Linked DNA regions of Homo sapiens. The protein of the gene in region 2 interacts with the protein of the main gene of each other region in a pairwise test. Each region holds a gene or a part of one and is shown on either strand. Other genes may lie near its edges.

Region 1 (11,803 bases), on a different chromosome or scaffold from region 2:
AAAACATTTCACCTTACTGGTAACTTCTTTGAATGAGTGAAGTTTTACACCACTATGTTTAATGAGAATACCCAGTATGGCAAGGGTTTGGTTAAAAAAAAACAAAATAAAAACATACAAAACTGCTTTGGAACACACACAGTAAAGGCAGGATTGAACAACTTGGAGTCAGAAAGACCTAGGTTCGAATCAGCACTCTGTCACATGTGGCCCTGAACAAGCTTCTCAAGCATCACGACTCAGTTTCATGCATAAAATGATGAGTGATGGTACCTACCTCCCTTGCTAAACATTTAAAGAGGCCACACACGAATAGCACTTTACAAAGAACCCAGCTAAGAATCAGCACTCAATAAAGGACAGATACCATCAGGGCTCAGGAGCCAGCCCTCTGGGGACCTCCCCCAAGGAGCAGGAAGAACCAACCCACTAAGCAGCAAGAGTCTAGCCAGAATTTCCTCATCTCCTCAGGAAAAGAAAAAAAAAAACTCAGATCTCGATGCTTCCTCTTTAAGGATCATTTTTAACTGCAGGTTCTGGCCAGGGACCTCCACTTCAATTCAAAAGGAGCACCCTGAAGAAATGGCAGAAGTTGAGATGGGAACACGACCAGGCCAAGCAGGGCAGCCCCTCAGTGATCCAAGACCACCACCTGCAGCAAACACTGCAAGGCCAGAAATCTGCTCTGCTCTTTTCTCCAGCAATGGGATCAATTACACCCTCAGAGGGGCTGGTCTGGGGGCTAAATGCCAGTCCTCACCTGCTCCACACTATTGCTGCCATAGCTCAGCAAGAGACAGCCAAGACCCCAAGGCAGAGGGACAAGTCCATCCCTGCTTGAAACAACAGCCTGGAGGAAAAGCAGCCCATTCTGCCTCCTGAGGGCGATCCCCTAGCTGGTGGGCACACTGTGCATCCTCCCATGCAGGAAAGAGCACAGGGCTATGGGTCCTTCTCCTCGTTTCTTGGGGGACAAAGCACTCAGGACCCCATCCCTTGGGCCTCCAGGGAAAGCAAGGCTCCAGAGGCACAGTTGTCTGAATGGGTAACAGGAAAGAGTTCTTGGATCACTAACTGCTCTGCCAGTGGAGTTTAACCCCAAAACATTCACTGGTTCCAGCACAAGTTTCAAAATCAAACCACTGAGTGCCCAAATAATTAAATGGATCACGTTATCTCACCTCACCCTTGCCATCGCACAGAAGGGGGCTACGCCCATTGTGAGCAACTGTTCTTTGGCAGGGGAAGAGAGACAAAGGTAGGAGGGAAATGAATTACAAAAGGGAAAACAAGCCTATTTGGAGATTTCAAGCAAGACTGGGTCCTAAGGATTAGTTCACTAACCTACTCAGAAGGCTGACACTGCCTGCTACCTAGAGTCTGCAATAATGCCTTGAAATGTTATTAGCAGGGCTTCCCCCTCCCAGAGGCCACAGCCTTTACTGGGCCCAGGTCCTTCCTTTCAAGTCTCTCTCATCACAAAGGCCCTCTCACCCCTTCAATTCCAAAGGCACTGGATATCCCTCAGCCTCTCAGCCCCTCAACCTCTCGATGTGCCTTCAGGTACTCTGCTTTCCCCTTGCTAACCCTTAGCTAACTCACCCTTTCTACCTCTGCTGACATAGAATTCCCTCCCTCCCCACAAAAACCTGCCCTCCCCCAAAAACAAATTTTGTCCCCTACTGTACACGAAACCCTGTACTTCTCCTTGGCAGCACCTTGCCAGGTTTGCTTAAAGGGCTTCCTTCTTGATGGACTGTAAGCTCCATGAAGGCAGGGACCACTCTGAGATTACCTACTATAACCCTAGCCCAAATATTTCAATACCCCAACAATACCCCAACCTGACTTTCCAACTTCACCTCCCTCCCCAAGTACTTCAGCCTCCAGCCATACCCCTCAAGGTTCCAAAATCGCCATGCTTTTACTACCACTGCTCTATAAAAAACCCAGGTCACCTCTCAAGGCTCTGCTAAAGGCCAACTGCCCCAGGAAATCTTTCCCAATCTCCCAGCAATACACATGCCTCTCACCTTCACCCTGGTGGAAATAATCAAGCAAGAGAGCCACAAGGACCTACCTTCTAATCAGATTCCCACTAACTAGGGGAGTGAGCTTGGACAAGTCATTAAGCTGGAGCCTCATTGCCCAGATAATAAATTTGAACTCCTGGAAAGGATAATGTAAACCACCTAACGGAACCTGGCATATAGTATGCCCAGAGCTCTCGCCCACCATCCCGCTACACCCTAATTAATGATTTGTTGCTAAGTCATCTGTCTTGCCCTTAGACTGTGTACCCCTGGGGGGCATTTCCTTATGTAGGCTCCACCACCCCTAGTCCTCTGAAGTGAAATCAGCCTCGTAAAACAGCAACAACAGCATCACCTAACACAAACTGAATGATCAGTGTTTAGTGTGTATGTTTAGATAGTGCTTAATTCCTAGTATGTACAGGCAATCCCATTTTTTTTTCTTCATCTTAAAGTTCAGGGGTCCATGTGCAGGATCAATGAATCCCATTTTTAATATACCCATGCAGAACACACATGCAATAAAATATATACATACACACATGCATCTCAAAATTCTTAGTGTAATTTTAAGCTTTAAAAACAACAAAATTATAAAAGCAACAGACTTAACATCATCTGGAAGTTCAATTATTTAAATTTCTTTTACACTCAGTTGATCAATTTTGAATGCAAAAGTTTTGATTTCACATCTTTTAGTCCCTCTCATTAGAAATGAAAAATGCTAAAATTCCCCAAACAGAATCTGGGGAAATTTCAGAAGTTACGTTCACTTTAGCTACTAGAGGAATGTTTTCATTTTCTTTCTATGGCAAAGTGTTCAATCTGGAGGCAGTAACCAGTGGATTCTAGGCCTGTAGCTCTCCCAACCCTGAGTGCTGTGCAGGTGGCTGGCAGCAGTGGCTGCTATCAAATTTTGTCTCTCTTTTGTAAACTGCACCACACAAGAGCCATCTTCTGCCTTGGCTTGCTTCTCACCAACACAGAACTGTTCTCCATGGTGTGGAGGAGACATAAAGTATTTCAGGAACTGTACTACCTTCTTACTGCCGACAGTCACAGACAGGTACAACCAATATAAATGAGCTCTTCATCCTGTCCTTTAACCACCCAAATGCAGTGTTAAAACATTCTTCTGGTCCTTCCACCATCCTGTACCTGCAGGATGCTTGTATAGATTACCCCACCTACTCGAATCTCTGTTAGTTCTGTTATTTCATGTCAGGTGACCTTTAAAAGCTTGAAAATCTGTGTCATGCATTAGCTCTCCTGGGTGAAAGCTGCTTATGTTCCAGTCTGCCAGAAGCATGGTTCTCAGTAAGCTAGGCTATTCTTCAACTGCCACGCTCTCAACAAATTTCAGATAATATTGGAGATTAACAAATGCAAAAAGACTTGCAGATGACTTATAAATTATAAAGCCACTCCAAAAATGCTTTTGTTAGCTAAGATTTTCAAACCGTACAGTACTTAATGTTTGGAATAACTCATCAAAAAGGCTGAAATTGTGCTCACTAGAATGATCAACAACCCGAGGAGACAAAAAACAACTCAATAAAAACTTAATGAATTTATTTCCTATCAGTCTTGTCAGGTTGCATTTTGAATTCTATCCACAGCATGTGATGAAAGTACCCAAACCATAATGTAATCTTATGTACTACATCAAGGATCTAGTCAGCATAATTTTCTGGGATCTGGTGTGAAAGCACACTCCTTTGTGTCTACAATCCTTCCGCAGGAAGGGCCTTTCCCCAACGCAATCAATCAATCAATCCATCAATCAATCATCAGTCCAGAAAAGCCTAATTGCTCACCCATCACCAGTTCTGATTATAATTAGTGTTCTATAATCATGGAGCAGGAAGCACAAGATGGGAAAGGAGGGGGGCCACCGAGGTCCTCCGAGGCACTTGGTAATCACGATCAGCCGTTTTATACCAATAGCCTAGAAGCCAAACACACAACTGCTCGCTCTGGTTAAATTCTGTTAAACCAGTACTAATAAGAATGGAAGTACAAAGCTTGAAACAATGATTTCTTATCCTAAAAACAGATTCTGCATGAGCAGAAAAGCAGGGATAAGCAGAGTGAAGTGTTTGAGAGTGAGAAGCATTATGCGGATGGCTAGAAAGAAAACCTCAATCGAGAATGACTCGCAATAGCCTTAAACCTGCTGCTGAAAATGCCCCCTGATGCATATTTATTAGGTCTGTCATCCAAGAGGCTTGTATGCCACAGTATTTCCAGCCATCATTAATAGGCATTAATGACCACAGCCTTTCAACGCCACTGTGGCGCACTGCAATGCAGCTCCGAGCAGCTGGTGGAATCAGAACAGATGGCCTGCTTCCCTTCAAGGCAGGACTTTCTGCAGGTGACAACATGACTGCTAGGTGACTGACAAAAAGAAAAACAAACAAAAGTTGAAACTGGAATATCTGATGTCAGTAAAGCACATGTTTAGTTTCTCAGGGAAACTTTGACTTGGGCCCTAAAGGTTGGTAGGATTGTTTACAAAACTGCAGTTGTGCTACAGAAGCAGAGTGCTCCTTCCAAGTCCAGAAACATTCACTAAGCCCTGGCCACATCTCCATGTGGGGTGGCAAACTAGGGTGTGCCACAGAAATCCATTTCTCCAAGAGGCTCAGTGAGTACCTAACATGCACCAGAAAGGGAAGCCCAGCATTCCAAGGAGGGGGGAAGTCAAGGTTCCTACCCTCAAGGGGCAATACGCTCTGGTGGAATTCAATGGCCACTCTGGGCACATGGCAAGCAGCACAGAGGGCAGAACCACGTTTTTGTCCAGGGATACTTAACTATCTGCCCTTGTATTTGTTTACACTTCTATTTTTCCCTTCAGTAAATTGCTTATATACGTTGCCTCTTAACGGGATACTTGGAATCTTCTGATTGAAAGAGCAGAACCCACTCAAGGTGGCTTAAACAGAAAAAAAAGTAAGTAAAAACCGAAAGAAGTGGGGACTCTCAAAGGACACAGGACTATTTTCTCGGAAAAGCTTTTCCTGATTATTTTGTCCAAAAGGATCCCCCACTACCTTATCCCTAGCATTTCACCCTGCCAATTCACCCCCCCCCTGCCCACCCAATAACTCTCTTCCTCCTTATCCTGCTTTAGTTTCCTCCCAGCAGTCTCTGAAGTTCCATTTTTTATCTACTCCTTTGCTTGCTCACCTCTCTCAAAAAAAGGTAAGCTCCAAGCAGGCAGGAAGGGCAGCTGTCTGTCTTGTTTGCTGGTGTAGCCCAGGGCTGGGAGCAGTGCTGGTCCTCAGTCAGTATCTTGAGTCACTGAATGAATGGTCAATCACACGAAACTAGGTCTCAGGAGGTACCCGAACCAGGAACTAGAAGCAAGACAGCTGCCCTCTAGCTCACACTCCATTCTCTCTCTGCCTTGTTGGGCTGCAGCCTCAGTTTCTCCTTCCAACTCCACTGTGCCTTCCAACTCCACTCTGCAAAGAGCAGAGGGCTTTCTTCACTCCCATCTCATACTAGCAAAACCCTGAGACAGTCTCCTGTGCTCTTAGGGTAAAGTCCAAACCCCTTCCAATATCTTATAAGCCCTTCATGATATCCCCCCATCATCATCCCTCACAATGTTTCATTCAATCATTCTTTCCTAGCCATAAAGAGTGTTTCTCTGTTCCTCAAAGTAGCTGCACGTTTTCATCTCTAGGTTGCAGAATACTCCAAACCTTCTTCGGAAAGCACTCCTTCCCTCTTATCTCCATCGTGGTCATCCCCATCTCATCCTGGCACATGGCTAGGGGACCCTGCTAACACATCCACCATCCCAGCCTTCAGGTCTTCCAGCTAGGCTGTCAGTGCTGCAGCAGCAGGGACCATGACTGTCTTGTTCATCTGCGTATCCCTTAGTGCAATCCACAGCATCTGACAAGTGGCAGATGCTCAAATATTTGGGGAATAAATAAATGAACCATGTATCAGTAACGGTTATTCACAAAGAGGCTGGGACAAAAATAAGAGAGCAGTTCACCAGGAAAAGGAATGTGTCTGCCTTGTCCTAGCTGTATTCCTCATGCCTGGAAGAGTAGACAGCCAATAAATATTTGCTGAATGCATACATTCCTGGCTTGCCTGATGTAACTCCACCCCTTTCTCTCCCACTTGAGAAAACACATCAGAATGCAAAAGGGTGAAAAATGACATTATTAACATGACATATCTGAATCATTTGAAAGATCCACACTTTATTACTTGTCATAAATTACTGGCCACATACCCTCAAGACTGATCATCACATATGAGGTACTTGAGACAGTGGTTGAGAACAGGTGATTTAGACAAAGCTAAGAAATATGAAGCACTTTCTGCTCTTATTATTTTATTTTCCAGAAGATGAAGGTGACAATAAGCTCAGTAAGAACTAATAACTGAATTATTCTAACCTTTACTTTTCTTTTTATAAAATAGATTTCTGCACACCCCAGGAGAAACGTTTAATTAAATCAAAAGACATTATAAATTCCTTTTCACAGTTATTTTTCTCCCATACCAATGAGGTCTACCAAGTTGCTGTTGTCTCCATTCAAAAGCCAACCTACAACCCCATATACCTACTTTCAGGAAGGCCACACTGCAAGCCCTGCACAGCAGATATAAAACCAGTGCTCCAATGTGACAATATTGGTCTTCCTCAAATATAGCAACGGCTATTTTGTTTTGTTTTGGTCCTTTGTGCATAAGTATTTTATCTTTTCGATAAAATGTTTGGTAAAATTACTGAACCTGAATCAAGCCTGTTTTACTTTCATTTATACACAGCATCCCCAAATATTGATCACAGGATGAAACACAACCAGAAATGAAAAGACCTAATGAAGCTTTCAGTCTTGGTGTGTTAAAGAGAGAAATAAATAAATCTGAGAAAGCCAGACCAGAAACCACACAGCAACACAGACAGCCACATATTCCAAACAAGGCTAAAGTTAGTAAAGGAAAATATAGCAACTCAAAGCCAGTAACACCGTAACCCTTAATAGCCCACAGAATTAGACACTCCATCCACACAAACAGATCTGAGCTCTTCAGATCACCCCACATGCTGAGCTACAGTAAAGATTTTGTTTTATAAATTTTTTTAAAGTTCAAAGACCTTTTAGTCTATAAAAGATACTAATGTTTGATGTCTTTGGGCCCAAATTAGAGTGGAGGATGAGAAAAGGAAAAGTGTTAGGGTATATTTGAAGGTTTCTTATTGCCACCAAAGGGTGGAGTAGTCAAGGCAAAGTGCTGAGGTTACAGCAACAACAAAAAGCATACAGAAAGTGGGACCTGCTTTTAAAAAAAAAAAAAAGACCATAAACTCTACAAGCTACTATACCCCTCTTTGTCTTACCTAACAAAACACTGAATCATCCAAAGGAAATGAGGCAGGTATCTACCTCCTTTTGTAGAGCTTATCAATTTCTACTAAAATACTTCATTTTTCAGTCATATTTAGTCATATTTATAAATTTTCATTTGTAGAGGTTCTTACCCTCTTTTTGTGCCAAGAATCCCTTTGGCAGTTTGATGACATGTAATGAGCCCTTCTCAGACTAATGTTTTTAAACATACAAAATAAAATACAAAGGATTACAATTGGAATCACTTATACTTAAATATCAAAAGTCTTAAATTGCTATACACATGTGCACTTCTGTAATAATGCATTAAATAACAAAATCTAGCAGCAAGTCTTTTTGTTGCCTACACTCATAAGTGAATGAAAATGCTAAACTGCAGTTTGAATATCATGAAAATCAAGACATGTTTTTCCCCCATCTAAGTTCAAGAATGTCCCGAACTCCATCTGTGGACCCTAGGTTAAGAACCCTTGGTTGAGAGAGCCAATAAAAATACATTTTGTGAAGCATCAAAAGAAAAAAAAAAAGTCTTGCAAAATGCATTATCCATTCAACTGTGAGGTGAGAGGAACTAAGAGAGTAAGCAATATTTTTCCAAAAACCACCATGGGCCATTAGTCAGCAAGAGAGCCACATGCTTCAAATTGAATCCAGAAAGGATGCTTTGAGGAACTGACAGCGCTGCTGGAATCTGTCTTAAAGTGAGGAAAGGGTAGAGTAGGGGAGTACAGCCACCCAGCTCAGCCCAGATCAACTATGAACTTGAACCTCTCTTGTTCTGGGAGCCTGTGTCCTCAAGAATAAAATATAAGGGCTAAACATATACCATGACCATTAGGCCCCCTTCCAGTCCTAATTTTTTTTTATTATACTTTAAGGCTGGAATACATGTGCAGAATGTGCAGGTTTGTTACATAGGTACATACGTGCCATAGTGGTTTGCTGCACCCATCAACCCATCATCTACATTAGGAATTTCCCCTAATGCTATTCAGTTCTAAATTTTTATCATGAGATCATCTCCTCTTTATGCTGGTTATTTCAGTCTATTTAGCTAAATTTCAAAACATCACTGTCTTTCTTAAACTTGGAACATAAAGTTTTACACAATTTAAATGCTCCCATGGGTAACCTAACACCAATGAGTCAAACAGATGTATATCATTACAACTTTTTTAAACATTCTGTTTTTACGCACATCTTCATAAAAAACAACCACAGCATTGATCTTTTCTGCTATTAAAACAACTGTCAGGGAACTTAGAATATGTAACTAAATAGTTTCTACATTTGCGCCAATGAACAGAATTACTGAGCACAGACCAGGAAGGGCTCTTGAAGCCTACCTAATCCAATCATATTTTGCAAATTGATAAAGAAACAGAGAGGAGGAGGAGGAATTAAGCCAAAGTCACAGAGCCAGTCAGCAAGAGAGAAGGGCTTATTCAGGTCACCCACCTGTAAATGCATGTTCTTCCCACTATACCAAACTGCCTCTCAAATCCTGAGCCACTTCCCTAACCTTAAAACGTAAGTTTAAAATTATAGCAAAAAGACCTGCTGGTTAGACCAGTCATTTTTCTCTACCTTCAGTTAAGTAGTGGACACAACAAAGAGTTGTGGCTATGATACATTAACTGGCTGGAATCATGAAATAATTAAATTCCACTAATCAGCCCAGAAAGTGATGAGCTCACTAAAATCCTAGCTATGTGGAATCTCTTAATAATACTGTGTAACACACAAAAAGATATAGAAGTATTTAGATATGGATATAGACATCTATCAGCTCTTCATTCTGCTCTCCAGGATTTCCTAGTAATGTTTCACTATGACATTCGAAAGTGAGCAAAAAGGACAGTCACATAACCATTAAAAAAAAAAAAAGCACTGAATTTGACAAGCAAAGCTTCTATCAATACCAAATATTAGGCATTTTTAGATCTCAGGAATCATCTCATTATTCAGAAAATCTACTTGAAATTTTCTGTTTTCCAATATTTATACCCCAGAGGACATAAAGATAATATCATAAAGATGATATTAATTCTATGTGAATGTTATTGTTGTTTTAAGATGAAGTACACTGTCTCAAATCCTAAGGGTGGAATATGAATAAGGTTCTCTCTAAAAATCTTCCTACCTAGTCACTCTTTCACCTGCACTCTTCAATGTGTTCAACATTGGTAAACAGTCAGAAACCTACCCTCGAAAAAAGAAAAATACCACAATTCAAGTATTCAAAAACCAGACTAGCATCCTCTACTCACATTTCACCTCCTCAGAGAGAACTTCCCTCACCTTCCAGCCGAAGAAACCAATACCCACCTAAGCAGTCACTCTCCAAGTTTATCAACTCCTCTTCAGAACTTGGCTGCACCTGAAATTGTCACTTATTACTCCTCTATTTGCATGTTTCTTTCTGTTTATGCCTGTCACTCCACTCTAAAAGGAAAGTTCCCTGTTCTCACTGCATCAGCAATGCCTAAACAGCACAGGCACAGAGTAGGTACACAAACGACGGTTGAGTGTCTCGCCCCCTAAGTGCCAACTATGTCATACTTTGGTCTCCTGGAAAAGCATTAGCAAAGGGCAGACCATATGCAACTGCAACGTTATATCCCGGGCTCCTGTGGAGTGAGACTATGATACTAGGACAATCCAGGGTTTCAATCCTTTCCGTGGCTTCGGAATGCCCTGCACTTCCAGCTATGAACACAAAACCTCTCCAGGCCCACTCGCTGCTTTTCTGAAACATCTCAACAATGATTTCCTCAAAAGGAAATAATGAAATAAAGTTCTGGCATACGTTAATCTTCCGCGTCAAGTTCACAGTGTTAAACACACTGAAGCCAGCCACACAAACAAAACCAAACTCCACAAGATTAGGTTGGGCTGAAGTTACATAAGACAGACTAAACTGCGGCTTTTCTCCTGTCATTCCTCCCGCCTTCCTGTGAACCCTGATATTTGTCTTTGAAGTGCAATTAAGATGTAGGTGAGAAAAACACTTATCTGCAAACAGCTTCAAAATAGGTAATGAGATTTCCAATACCACCCCCACTTAATGCACTAGCAACAAAGTCAGGAAGACTGGGAAGCTTTGAGTTGTGCGGTGTCTGGAAGCTTCCCTCAAAAACTCCTCTCTTTAAATTATTTTTAAGTCAGCACTTACTTCAAGGCACTCACTTATCAAAACACGTTTTGCAAAGTTCCCTGAGTCTTCCCACAGCCATGACTCCTCATATGTGTGCTAAGCCTACCTATCAGCGCCGAGGATGTTCTGAATACAGGTCTTTCAACGCAGAAGGACAAAAGCGCGGGTTCCCAGAGCGACACATCCAAAGGAAAAAATAATCCTTTCTTCAACACTAAACCCAAGTTGTTCCTTCCCCCCAGTTTCCTGCACTTCCCCCTTCCCCCTCCCCTTTCACTGCCCACTATATCCAGTTTTAAGCCCGCAAAGCCTCTCTCCTGGCTTATTAAGGGTAAACAATAGAAATGTCACAAGGAAACTCAGGAAGTAGATGAAGTCTCTAATTGCTGCCGTTTAACGATTGTACATAATTACTATCTTCAAGATGCGGCTTTCACCAGCAGAGAGGGAGCCGAGGCGGGCGAGGCTGGCGAGCTCCCCGCAGCCGGGAGGGCATCAGCGAGGCCGGGACCGGGGGGATACGGCCCGCGCCCCGGTGCCAGGCCCCGAGCAGCCGCATCCTGTCCCTCCCCTCCAGAGCACTCCAAGCGGGGAGAAGCGGAGGGCCGGCCGGCCCGGGTCACACACAGTTCACTGCTCTCGGGCTGCGGCGGCCCGCGGCGGTCATCGGAACAATTTGCAAAGCGCAGCCGGGGATCCCACAGCCCGCGGCGGCCCAAGCTCACGGCGCCGCGCTCGGAGTTCGGGGGCGCGGGTACCACGGTCCGCGAGGGAGGTGGGAAGACGGGGCTCCGCGCCGGCCGGCCTCTCAGCTTCGGGAAGCGACCCCGCGAAGCGCCCGCGACCGCGGCGCCTCACATGGAGTCCCTGCCCGCCCTCCCCGGCCCGGACGCGGCGCGCGGGAAGTGGAGCCCCTGCCCCCGCCCCCACGATACGGCCGCGGACCCGGTGCCCGGCGCTGCCCCCGCTGGGTCGCCCGAGTTCTGGCCACTTCCTCCGCCGCGTCCTCCGCGCGGACAGCGCAGCCCGGCGTCCGCCGCAGCACCCCGAGCGCGCGCCGATGGGGCGCATCCCGCCCCCGCGCCGCCGTCCGGGCCCTGAGAGCCTCTCCTGCCGCCCCGAGCGCCCCGGCGGTCCCCAAAGAGCACCGAGCCACCCCGCCAGCCCCGCTCCAGGATGCGGGCGCTCCCCGCCCGCGCCGCTGCCCGGGACCAGGGACCCCA
Region 2 (11,803 bases):
ATTTTTCATGACCCTTGTATTCTCAACATTATGCTAGATGTTGTTAGAAATAAAAAGCAGTGTAATACCTGCTCCCTTGCCCTCAAAAATGTAATAGTTTGGGTTTTTTATTGTTGTTTGTTGGTTTGTTTTTTTGAGACAGAGTCTTGCTCTGTCGCCCAGGCTGGAGTGCGGTGGCGTGATCTAGGCTCACTCCAAGCTCCACCTCCCGGGTTCACGCCATTCTCCTGCCTCAGCCTCCGAGTAGCGCCTGCCACCACGCCCGGCTAATTTTTTGTATTTTTAGTAGAGATGGGGTTTCACCATGTTAGCCAGGTTGGTCTTGATCTCCTGATCTTGTGATACGCCCGCCTCGGCCTTCCAAAGTGCTGGGATTACAGGTGTGAGCCACCGTGCCCGGCCAAAAATGTAATAGTTTTATTGGGAAAGTAGAACTGATGTTCTAGAAATAGAGACCAGAGAATATTCTCCTGTGTGCTACAGGTGTCATACTGGGTAGCAGAGAAGACTCAGTTGTGTGTGGATAACAGTAGGTGAGAACAGGCTCTTGGGTAAAGGGGTACCTAAGCTGGGCCTTGAAGGATGAAGACCAGTTAAATTGTAGAGGAAAGAGAAGTGAGTGTGTTGGGCAGGAGAACAGAACAGGCAGTGGTCAGACAGGAGGCGGCATGACTTGAAACAGAGTGCAGTGCCCTCTGACTGGGCTGATGTGTTTATTTGAGTCTACTGAAAAATAACACAGATGATTCAAATGTTTGAGCTGTATAAGAACAAAAGTGTTTGGCCTCACCTCAGTCAGAAGCATCTGTGGGCTTGAGCATGGTACTGAAGTGAAGGAGTTCTCAGGATAAGGGGCAACAGTGTGCAGTGTAGGCTGAGAATAGACCCAGGATTTGCAGGACCAGCTAGGAGAAAGTTGGCAGGGAAGCGGGTCTTTGGAAAAAAATTTGAAAACAGAAAACAGAGGACTGAAAGAGGGAAGATGTGTCTGAGAAACTGAAAGAAAAGAAACTAGATGTCTTAGATCCAAAGCTGACTCACAGATACTGAGGCTGATAGGCTGGATGAAATTGGGATATTACCAAAATATCAGTAGTACATTTTTGAGCTATTATGTAATTTAAATTTAAAAATTAGATTTTTAAGTGAAACAAGTAATAATTTCAAATATTAAAATATTTTGGTTAATATAATAAAATTTGAATTTACTCACAAAGGAAATTTTAAGACTTCAAGAAGAGAATGAGAAATTGAAGTCAAGGTTGAAGACCATTGAAATACAGGTAACTGAGAAATGTTTTGACACAATTATTGAACTGCCTACAGATTAAATACTGAAAGTGTTTTGTTTAAACTTCACTATAGGCTACAAATGCACTGGATGAAAAGTCAAAACTAGAAAAAGCACTGCAAGATTTACAGCTTGATCAAGGAAATCAAAAGGTGAAACAAGTTTTAGCTACCTTTCTCACATTTTCTAAGTAGAATGAAGTTATAAACTTAAAATTAAGTCTTAGTTACTGCTCACTGTACCCCACCCCTGCTACTCCCTGAGACAAATGCCTCTATTGTCATGTGTTGGGACATTCTTGCCCCCAAAAGGCCTGGTGAGAACCAGTGACCTTCCCTCTGTCCATCCTCTAGGGCAGAGGGGACAGTACATAGCTCACACACCTGCAGTTTCCCTGGCATGCAAGATATTCTCACATTTATTTTTTAAGTTTTTCTACAATCTTCCTGGTATGCAAGATATTCTCACTTTTTTTTTTTAAGTTTCCCCTCTCACTTTGACATCCAATTACAGTGGAGGGGAAAGAAAATGAAAAGAAAAGTTTTTAATTGGTTTATATTTGGGTTTTATTATACTGAACATTACTTAAGTTTGCCTTTGATGAGTGTGACAAAATGATTATGAATCTGCAGATGCGTCTGTACCCGCCGGCACCATAGAGTACAATGAAATCCAGTGTTGTAGTTCTTCATGCTTGTCTGAATGTAATGACTGAATGTCACTCCGCCTGCGGGAAGTCATTGTATGTACAGTCTGTCTCCTGTGGACTTTCTGTTGAGTGTGCATGCTGCAGTATGATTTCCTGTGAGCAGGACCATTTGGGTAGATATTCAGTACAGCATTGGCTTTTCTAGTGGTCATACTCTCATTGCAAATGTCTGGTAAACAAACCCAAAATCTGCTTCACTGGGCTTTTGCTAATCTTTTCTCTATGAAAAATTTCAAACATACACAAAAGTAGAGAGAATAGTATAATGAACCCCCATGCACTCTTCACTCTATTTAGCAGTTACCAATGCATGGCCAGTCTGGTTTCATTTGTACCTCTACTTTCTTCTTCCCACCAGCCATGTTTTTTTGAAGCAAATCTCAGACGTTGAACCATTTTATCTGTAGATATTTTTAAAATAGGAGGATACTTCTTATATAGCTAATGATTTTCAACCATTATATGCCAATGACAATAGATTTATAAAAACACGAATGTTCCAGAACCGCTTTATAATTTCTCCTAAGTCAAACAATTGCAAACACATGTGGCTGATGAATTTGTTTAAAAGCTTTTTGGGGCTTTGCTCCAATTTTACTTTAAGATTTTGGACACAAGAACAACCAGTGAATACGTGCTTTTATTAGTTGCAATGAAAATCTTTTTTTCAAAGACCAGATTTCAAAAATGAGGAAAGATTTTTTTTTTCTTCTGTTGAAAGTACTTTTTTTTTTTTTTTTTTTTTTTCTTTTGAGACAGGGCCTTATTCTGTTTCCCATGCTGGAGTGCGGTGGTGCAACCATGGCTCACTACAACCTTGACCTCACCGGCTCAAGCGATCCTCCCACCTCAGCCTCCCAAGTGGTTGGGACCACAGGCATGTGCCACCATGCCTGGCTAATTTTTTATATTTTTTGTAGAGACGGGGTCTTGCTCTGTTGCCCAGGCTGGTCTCAATTTCCTGGGCTCAAGTAGTCCTCCTCCCTTGGCCTCCTAAAGTATTGGAATTACAGGCGTGAGAGCCACTTGAAAGTACTAAGTATTTCTTCATCTACATATTAACCAATTGTAGACCATTTTACTGTCTTATCAGTACAAATGTTTTTTCTGTCATGAATCTTATCCAGTCAAAAACAAGATCCAGGAAGAGAGAAGATCCAGTGCCTGTCTTATGCTATAGTTGTCAAAGTATGCAAAAATTACACATATCTCATGAATATAAAAAACTTAAAATCTTAAAAATTTAGAAAACCATGTAATCAGTAATTGTGCTCTCATATTATTTCCTTGTAAATAATGACTAAAACATATGTCTATTAAGTTTTTGGTATAAATTATATTACTTTTATCATTTTTTCTATCATTTTGAAGAATTCAAACTTCTTTGAGGATTTTTTTAAATTTGGCTTTTCAAAATGAAACCTGTTTGCCATCTCAACCCTGGTACACACATCTTGGATGGAAATACCAGCAGTTCACAAATCATATTTTATGTATTTGGAATTCAGTGGCTACTGAGTGTCGGCTGTGTGCAAGACACCACGTACCCAGGGCTGACAATGGACTGGCCTGCTGGTGACTCTGAAGGGGCTGGCACTTACCTAGGCTGGCAAGGGAGGCTGGCATGCACACAAAACATACATCATTTTTTTCATCTCCTATGATGTTGAATCACCATTCTAAAACAGTTATTTTTAGAATATCAACATGAAATTACATGCATGCATTTATTTTTCATAGGATTTTATAAAGGCCCAAGACTTAAGTAACTTAGAAAACACTGTCGCTGCCTTAAAGAGTGAGTTTCAGAAGACACTTAATGACAAGACAGAAAACCAGAAGTCACTGGAGGAGAATCTGGCGACAGCCAAGCACGATCTACTCAGGGTTCAGGAGCAGCTGCACATGGCTGAAAAGGTCAGAAGACCATGTTTAAGGGATTTGTCTGTTAATGCATGATTAATGCACACAGTATAGAGGAATACATGTGGCTAAGATAAACGTTGGACAACTGCAAATTCAGATTATTTTTTCTCAAGGTATTAGCCAATATGTTCTAAAGATTAATCATTTCCGGGCACTGATATTCTTCCATCTTTGGTACTAAAATATCTGTGATAATAAGACATCTCCTCTCCCTCTATGGTGTAGTGAAATGCTCCTCTGTAGGTGGCTTGAATCCTGCCCTACATCCCACCATGTTGCTCTTCTGCTCCTTCTTCCCACAGCCTGCAGAGGGATGAGGGACTGTTTTTTTTAAGGACTTCTATACTTTTGTCATAATTTATATAAAATATGTAGAGAGCTAGATTCTTCACTTTGGGGATTAGACTCTTAAGAATATGGGAGTTGAGGCCGGGTGCAGTGGCTTGTGCCTGTAATCCCAGCACTTTGGGAGGCCAAGATGGCAGGATTGCTTGAGCCCAGGAGTTCAAGACCAGCCTGGCCAACATAGCAAGACCCCCATCTCTATAAAAAAATTAAAAATTTTTTCATATAAAAAATGGGAAAAAAGAATATGGGAGCTAAAATTTAACTAAATTAAAAATCATTTTGCTAAAATACACTACTATGGGACTTGGGAAAAAAGTGTGCTTATTTTACAGGAAAATTAGTTTAATATTTCAAATAGATTTATCATATCCAGGGCTTGAGTTATTTACCAACACTGTACTTGGGAAAATGTTACTATTTTATGGCTTCTCATTTGAAAGAATATATTTTTAAAGTTTGGATAGTCTTAGTTTTATATAAATGTGTCCTTTAAGGAAATTAGAAAATCATTAGCAAAATACTAGTAAAATTCAAGCAAAAAAAACTACATATTTTTATCGCATTTGTTATCTCTTTCCTTAACTATTTTTTTAGTAATGGGCTGACATTTTTTACTAAGCAGGAATTAGAAAAGAAATTTCAGCAAACAGCAGCTTATCGAAACATGAAAGAGATTCTTACCAAGAAGAATGACCAAATCAAAGATCTGAGGAAAAGACTGGCACAGTAAGCCACACTGATCCCGCCTTTGGATTTCTCTCTCTGGATTGATGTTTGTTCTCTGTTAAATCTAAGCTTGTTCCAGAGAGGTCAAGCCGGTGGTAGTTGCTGGATCATTTAGTCCAGAAGCCTTCATTTGAGGAAAGTGGAGGAGCTCTGGCCTGACCTTATCTATAATGCCCACCAGGGCTTCTTTTTAGGTTCATCTAGGCCTTTAGACTCACACAGGCCTACAGTAAGCTGCTCTTGGCAATGGATTCACTTAGCAGGATGTCAGACAGGAAACACAGCAAGCTCGCAGGGCAGCATTAGGTAGTTCTCTTCTCCTTGGTGGTATACTCTAAGCAGTCCAAGAACTGGTCTTACTGTTCCCCTAAATGACAGTTTAAGTTGGAGAGAATGAGATTCATGCAGATGGGTGTCATAGCCAGCTTGGCTTAGAAGTCCGTGTTCTACATAGGATTAGTATCTCTCTTAGCAGTCACATGATACCCAGTTAAGGGTATGTCCAGTTAAAAGAACTCATCGCACAGGGGGAAACCTAAAGTGGTGGCTCCCACCATGTATTTATAGTTCATTCATAGTCCTCCAGGTCCAGATGTGGTCATCAGATGTTTTGCCTGGAAACTGAGTTGACATTTTACCTTTATCAGAGTTCCAGGGGAGCAGAGCTAGAAAGGGAATTCAAGGTGAGATTTGTCCTTAGAGAAGTAGATTTGCTAGCCCTTTACTCATATAGTCGTATCAACTGTTCTTGTCAACATGATGATTGAGGTAATTATATGAAGTTATCACAGGTCTAAATGCCAAATATACAGACTTGGAGCCTTAGCAGTGATCTGGCCTATCCTCCTACCTGATGTAAAAATCCCCTCTGAGTCACCATCAAAACAAAGTTGAATGTGTCCAACTTCTACCGTAACAGTAATTTGAAGTGAGAAATATAGTGCCACTGCTTCAAGTAAACTTATTTGGTAATAACAACAACAAAAGGTATCCTGACATTGTGTTCTTAATTTATATCTCCAGATATGAACCTGAAGATTAAAACTGAAGATTTCCTCTGGAAGCTACCACATGCAAACATACAAGCAGTCTCACCTCAGGCATGTATTTTGAAAAGCATTTTGTCATATCCCCTCTCCTTATTTTTCTAATATTTAGACTTTGAATATTTAGAACTAGAGTTCCTATTTTCAGCTAGTTGAAAACAGAGAAAACCTAGTGATTCTGTCTGGTCATCCCACACACCTCTCTACTGAGTGCTCCAGAGTCTTAGCTCACATGCACTGAGAATTCTTTACAGCAAAGAAGAGATTTTTAGAGTGGGAAGAAGAGGCTTATCCTTCTGCATTAGTATAAAGAGTCTGTATTTTTAATAAATGTTAAATAAGCTAACAATGTTTGTACTTATGCATTCCCCATGGGTAAAAATAAATAATAGCATTGTTAAAGATAGTTATTACCAAAAAAAGAGAGTTATTACAAATAAATATGTCTCTTTATTTTTAAAAATGAAATCTTAATTCATTTACTCTATTTGATGATAAACTATAAATTCATTGAAAATGTGAATTCTATTATGGGTAGCCTTTTTACCAATTATAAGGAAAATTTACAGCAGTGAACATGAACATTCACTTAGCTTCCTCAGTCTCTCCATCTTAAAGATCATTTATCAGAGGAGGTTCAGCATTTTTTGCAGCATAACTTTTCATGAGTCTGTATTACTAATGGATAAGTCAAATCCATCCTGCACTTCTACAGTTTAGAAAGTATCTGGACTCAGAATAAATGTAATATTTATACTTGTTTCCAGAATGTTATTTTACATTTTATGTTCAATAAGAACACTTTTTAAAAGACGTATATTCAACATAAAATCAGCTATCAGACTTCAGATTAGACTTTATTTATGTGGGTCTATAATAATTGTATTTTCAAGAGGTTTTCACTATATTTGTATTGGCCTGGTTTTCTCAGACGATTTTGGACAAATCATTAGAAACTGGGCATCATATCCACAGTTATGTAAGGCAGTGATATACTATAAGGATAAACAAAGTCAAGTCCATAAAGCAATAATCCCTCAGAAGGAAAGTCCTTACTTTTCACATATTAATATTTAGTAATTTTTCCTGCTTCTAAAAGTGAGAGTATCACACCCTAAATGAACACTGTCTACTAAGAGACATCATTCCATTTCCACAAATGAAGATTTTATTCCAAGAAACGAGTTTACTGATTGGAGCATAGGGCTTGTTGTTATTTTTATTCAAGCTTTTAGTAATAGCCTTGAATTTATTATTTTTCTTATAGGCTTTTTGTTAAAATAGTGAAGGAACAAATGTTAAAGGGTAAGATAATTTCCCTGCAAAAGGACACAGAAGGCAGTCTTAAGAAGATGAATGGATGAGAGAAGGGAGAGAATAAAATGCAATAACGAGCCAGCATTTACTATGTATTTTCTCCTCACCTGTCTCTCCATATTTAGGTCACTTACCAGTTTCTGTGCCCTTTTGGAGCTTTTGTTGAGGGCTTCATTCTCACCCTGTATTTCTTTAGCCCTAAATTGACACTCTCTCCAAAAATCCATTCCATTGTCTGTGGACCAAGATGTTCTATGTAATTCAGAAGCAGAACTCTTGGCTAAAGGGCTAGTGTGGCCTTCAGAAACCATTCAATTATTTTCTCCCTACACCTTTGTCAGTTTGAAACCAGTGAGGAAAAAAGGTATGTTGATAAGAAACCTATATTGCTAGGTAGAATTTGTACTTGTTTTCTTGGTAGCAGTTTTGAAATATTCTGTACAGTACGTTCCTATTGTTTAATAATAAATTCAAAAATATTTCTAAAACCTTAAAACCAACTATGCCAAGCATTAAGATAAACAAATATGATGTTCTTTGACGTAAATCAACGTGATGATTCTTTCACATGTAAACACATTTTAGTGTTTCTGGTTTGTCATTTTTGTTGTTGTTGTTGTTGTTGTTATTTACTCTATACCCTTTAGCAAAATACAGTTTTAAATTTTTATTGTTTTTAGTAGTTTCCCAACTTTAAGACTTATCTAATTTAACTGAGAAAGAAAGCCTTTTTCATATATATATATATTGGATTTCTAAGGATGGTGGTTTGAGCCTTGATTAGACTTTTGATGTGCTAAGCCAGACAGGCAGTCTGTACATTGATGGCCATCACAATGCAGCTTTGGTTTAATTTAATTCAGGCCTGCTGCTGAGTTATGCACAGACTTTTTGTTGACCAAAATAAAATATAAAGGGTTTTCTTCTGTTTGACATTTGTGTTCATTTTTTCTCTTTATGTATTACATTTTAACCTATATTAAATAAATGTTTAAATGATAATTTGCTTATGTCTTATAAAACTCAGCATAAGAAAAATACTGCCCTACCTTGACTGTGTAATCTTATTTGATAAAGCCTTTGCTATTCATTATTTCCATTCTGATTAACTGAAAGAGATTTATAGAGATGCTCAAATTTTAAGCCCTTGGTGCTTTTAGATATATATTGGTTGCAAAAGTTTGGCATTAATGATTTCCCTCTGCTTATGTGTAAATGCCTATGTTCCAAAGCTTTGCCACTAGATATTCAAATCATAAATTGTCATGTAAGCCAGTCTTCCAGAAAGAAAAGCTATTTCAGCAAAATGATATTTCACATTTAGACAAAACAGTAGTATTTAGACAATAATATTTTGACAAAACCATTTTCAAAACTGCTTAGGAAAAAGGGGAAATATTATACTTAAAGGTAATGACCTCTGTCTTGAATAGAGGTGAGTGGGTTGGTGACAACTGGTTTGGAGGCTTTTGTGGGGGACTGTGGTGTCTTTTGGATTGTGTCATCAGCTCCTTCATCAAGTAAGCGTGTAGCTGTTATTGCCTATTGTAAAACATGAATTGATGTGAACAGTACTCAATCTCTTACATTATATGAAGTATAACTTCCTCTCTTTTTTGCCTATAATACATCCTTTAACTTTTACAGATTAAAAAACCACTGTTAGACAAAGCAAAATGGAACTTGGAAAATCCTTTATAGTTTTGTAAAATAACAATGGGCTTACTGTCAAATTAACTAACAGCTTATTAAATGGATTTTCATGAGCACTTGGAAAAGAAACATAACCACCAGGAGCCAGCATGGATCTCCCTAGTAAGAAATCAGGTATGGCAGGGCCAGTCGCGGTGTCTCATGACTGTAATTACAACGCTTTGGGAGTTCCAGGCAGGGGGATCGCTTGAGGCCAGTAAGTCAAAACGAGCCTGGCCAATATCGCAAGACCCCATCTCTACAAAAAATTTAAAAATTAGCTGCACATAGTGGCATGTGATCACATGATACGGCAGACTAAACTCGTTTGTCTTTTTTTTTTTTTTTTGAGACAAGAGTCTCACTCTGTTGCTCAGGCTTGAGTGCAGTGGCGTGATCTCAGCTCACTGCAAGCTTCACCTCCCAGGTTCAAGCCATTCTCCTGCCTCAGCTTCCCGAGTAGCTGGGACTACAGGCACCTGCCACCATGCCTGGCTAATTTTTTTGTATTTTTAGTAGAGACGGGGTTTCACCATATTAGCCAGGATGGTCTCGATCTCCTGACCTCATGATCCGCCCACCTTGGCCTCCCAAAGTGCTGGGATGACAGGCGTGAGCCACTGCGCCCGGCCTCATTTGTCTTTTTAAAAGCATGAGAGGTATAGTATGTCAGAATTTCAGCAAGGTGCTTGACAAAGACCTCATGATAGTCTTGTTGAAAAGAATCGTAGGTGGGTTTTCCCAAATGTAGACTATAGGATAAGGATTTGGGTGCAGGTAGTTTATTTGGGAAGTGATTTCAGGAAATCCCGCGGAAGACTGAGGAACTGAGACAGATCGAAAGAGTCACCACTATGGGCAACTGGGACCCAATCCTGCTGGGGACCCTCTGAGACATGGTACAGAAAACATCTCTGAATTATTACACTGAAGGACAAGGTAGCTGGGAATATTATCCACCACTTTCCATCCCTCACTGGTTGAGGTTAGAAATCTGAGGTATTAATTCCTTGCCATGTCCAGCCTGCCTGGATGTAGACCAAATTCCAGAGAATGCTCTCAGGCAAAGAGACTCCTCCAGAAGCCAAGCATGGGAACTGTCTGCTTGCAAACTCAGGAGTAGATGGGGAGTGACTGTTAATGGGTCCTGCATTTCATTTTGAGGGTATGAAATGTTCTGGAATTAGATAGTTGTAATAGTTGTACAACTTTGTGACTATACTAAAAATCACTGAATTGTATACTTTAAAATGATAAATTTTATACGTAAGTTATATCTCAATTAAAAGAAAAGAAAACCTCTGGGAATAGATGAAGGGGATATGTTGAAGTAATCACCAGCATCTCCAGCCATCCACTCCGCTCTACTGTACCACCTGGTGTCCCATGTTAAGTTCACTTTCTCTCGAGGATAATGGTTGGTCACAATATTTTTAAAACAATGAATACAAAAAGGAAAACATCAACGAAAAGCTTAGTGGGACAGGCTGTAGTCCTCTCTGTTGCATATTGGTCCTGAAGCCATAATTAACATTTATCATCTCCCTCTTCTACTTATTCTAGATTCCCCTCACCCTCAACCAGCACTTTTGCTGGTCAGCATGGCTGGCCTCATGAGATGACCTAGACTTTCCTTTCTTAGATGTCTGAGCCCCTGATCATTTTGCCCCTGTCCTGCTGTATTTGTGAAATTTCCCATTTATTGTTACCCCCACATATCACCAAGAGGTACCCCTACACTACAGCCTGAACCATAGAGAGGTACAAAGCCCTCCTAACTGTGTACTCAAAACTTGCAGCCTTCTGAGTGACCCAAGAAATGGTCAGAGCAATATTCCTAAGTGTTGTACATGCTGACTTCAGAATCCAGATAATACTACCTAGTGCTTACCTCTCTTAGTAGTAGAAGGTACAAAATGCAATAACTGGCTCTTGACTTGGCAGGATGTCCCAGTATTCCCTAGATTGTTGGACCTCTGACCTCTGAATCTTTGTAGGAATTACCTCCTTCTCTCTGGTGCATGTGTCATAAGGAACACTCAGATTATTTGCCAGTTCATTCCTGTTCACTAGGTCCAGTTAACATTTTGTCATCAAAGTATTGGACCAGGATGATGTTCTACAGAATGTCACGATGATCAAGGACTTCTTTGGACAGTTTTGTAACAGAGCAGGAGGGTTTATATGCTCCTGGAGCAAAACTTTGAGTGTACACTGTGTTATCTGACCCAGGTGAATTCAACCTGTTCTTGATTCTCTTTTCTGAAGGGGATTTAAAAGAATTCATTAACCAAATCTCCAGCCTCATATCAAGTGCTGACTCGAAGGGATGCTACATCCAGCACAGCAGCTGCTATTGGAGCTACTTCTTGGTTTATGTTAGTCCACTGTCATCTTCCACTTTTGCTCTGTTTTGCTTTGCAGGAACCATTCAATGGGATATTGTGGGGATCACTGTCAATACTCCTGGGATGTTGCCCCTGATTTTGACCAGGAGTGGGGAGGGGGTGGGATGGAGAGAGCATTTTGGAGCATTAAATAAGCCTTTTCTACCATTATGGCTCTTATCCCTCAGGTCAAGAAACCAATTTTGGGGTCTCTCAGTTAAGTGCACTCATCCCATTTATCCTCTCAGAAACAAGGGAGATCAGGGGATTGACCCACAGGCCTACTGGATCTGCCCTGAGATAGCCTTGGGTCAGAACTTTATAGATTGCCTATCTTATATGTCCCACTCTAACAAGAGGG

What was found.
Region 1: the proteins of LZTFL1 (region 2) and PELI2 interact in binary tests that used the Homo sapiens proteins (3 or more experiments, as listed by UniProt).

Annotation. Positions count from the first base shown.
Region 1 is NC_000014.9:56,118,746-56,130,548, reverse strand, and holds part of PELI2 (E3 ubiquitin-protein ligase pellino homolog 2), read right to left. Parts: intron 10,814-11,803; exon of another isoform or gene 10,687-10,813; intron 1-10,686. UniProt on the Homo sapiens protein: E3 ubiquitin ligase catalyzing the covalent attachment of ubiquitin moieties onto substrate proteins. Involved in the TLR and IL-1 signaling pathways via interaction with the complex containing IRAK kinases and TRAF6.
Region 2 is NC_000003.12:45,820,553-45,832,355, reverse strand, and holds the end of LZTFL1 (leucine zipper transcription factor-like protein 1), read left to right. Parts: intron 1-1,217; coding exon 1,218-1,283; intron 1,284-1,365; coding exon 1,366-1,443; intron 1,444-3,740; coding exon 3,741-3,917; intron 3,918-4,896; coding exon 4,897-5,000; intron 5,001-6,023; coding exon 6,024-6,042; 3' UTR 6,043-9,040; downstream 9,041-11,803. UniProt on the Homo sapiens protein: Regulates ciliary localization of the BBSome complex. Together with the BBSome complex, controls SMO ciliary trafficking and contributes to the sonic hedgehog (SHH) pathway regulation. May play a role in neurite outgrowth. May have tumor suppressor function.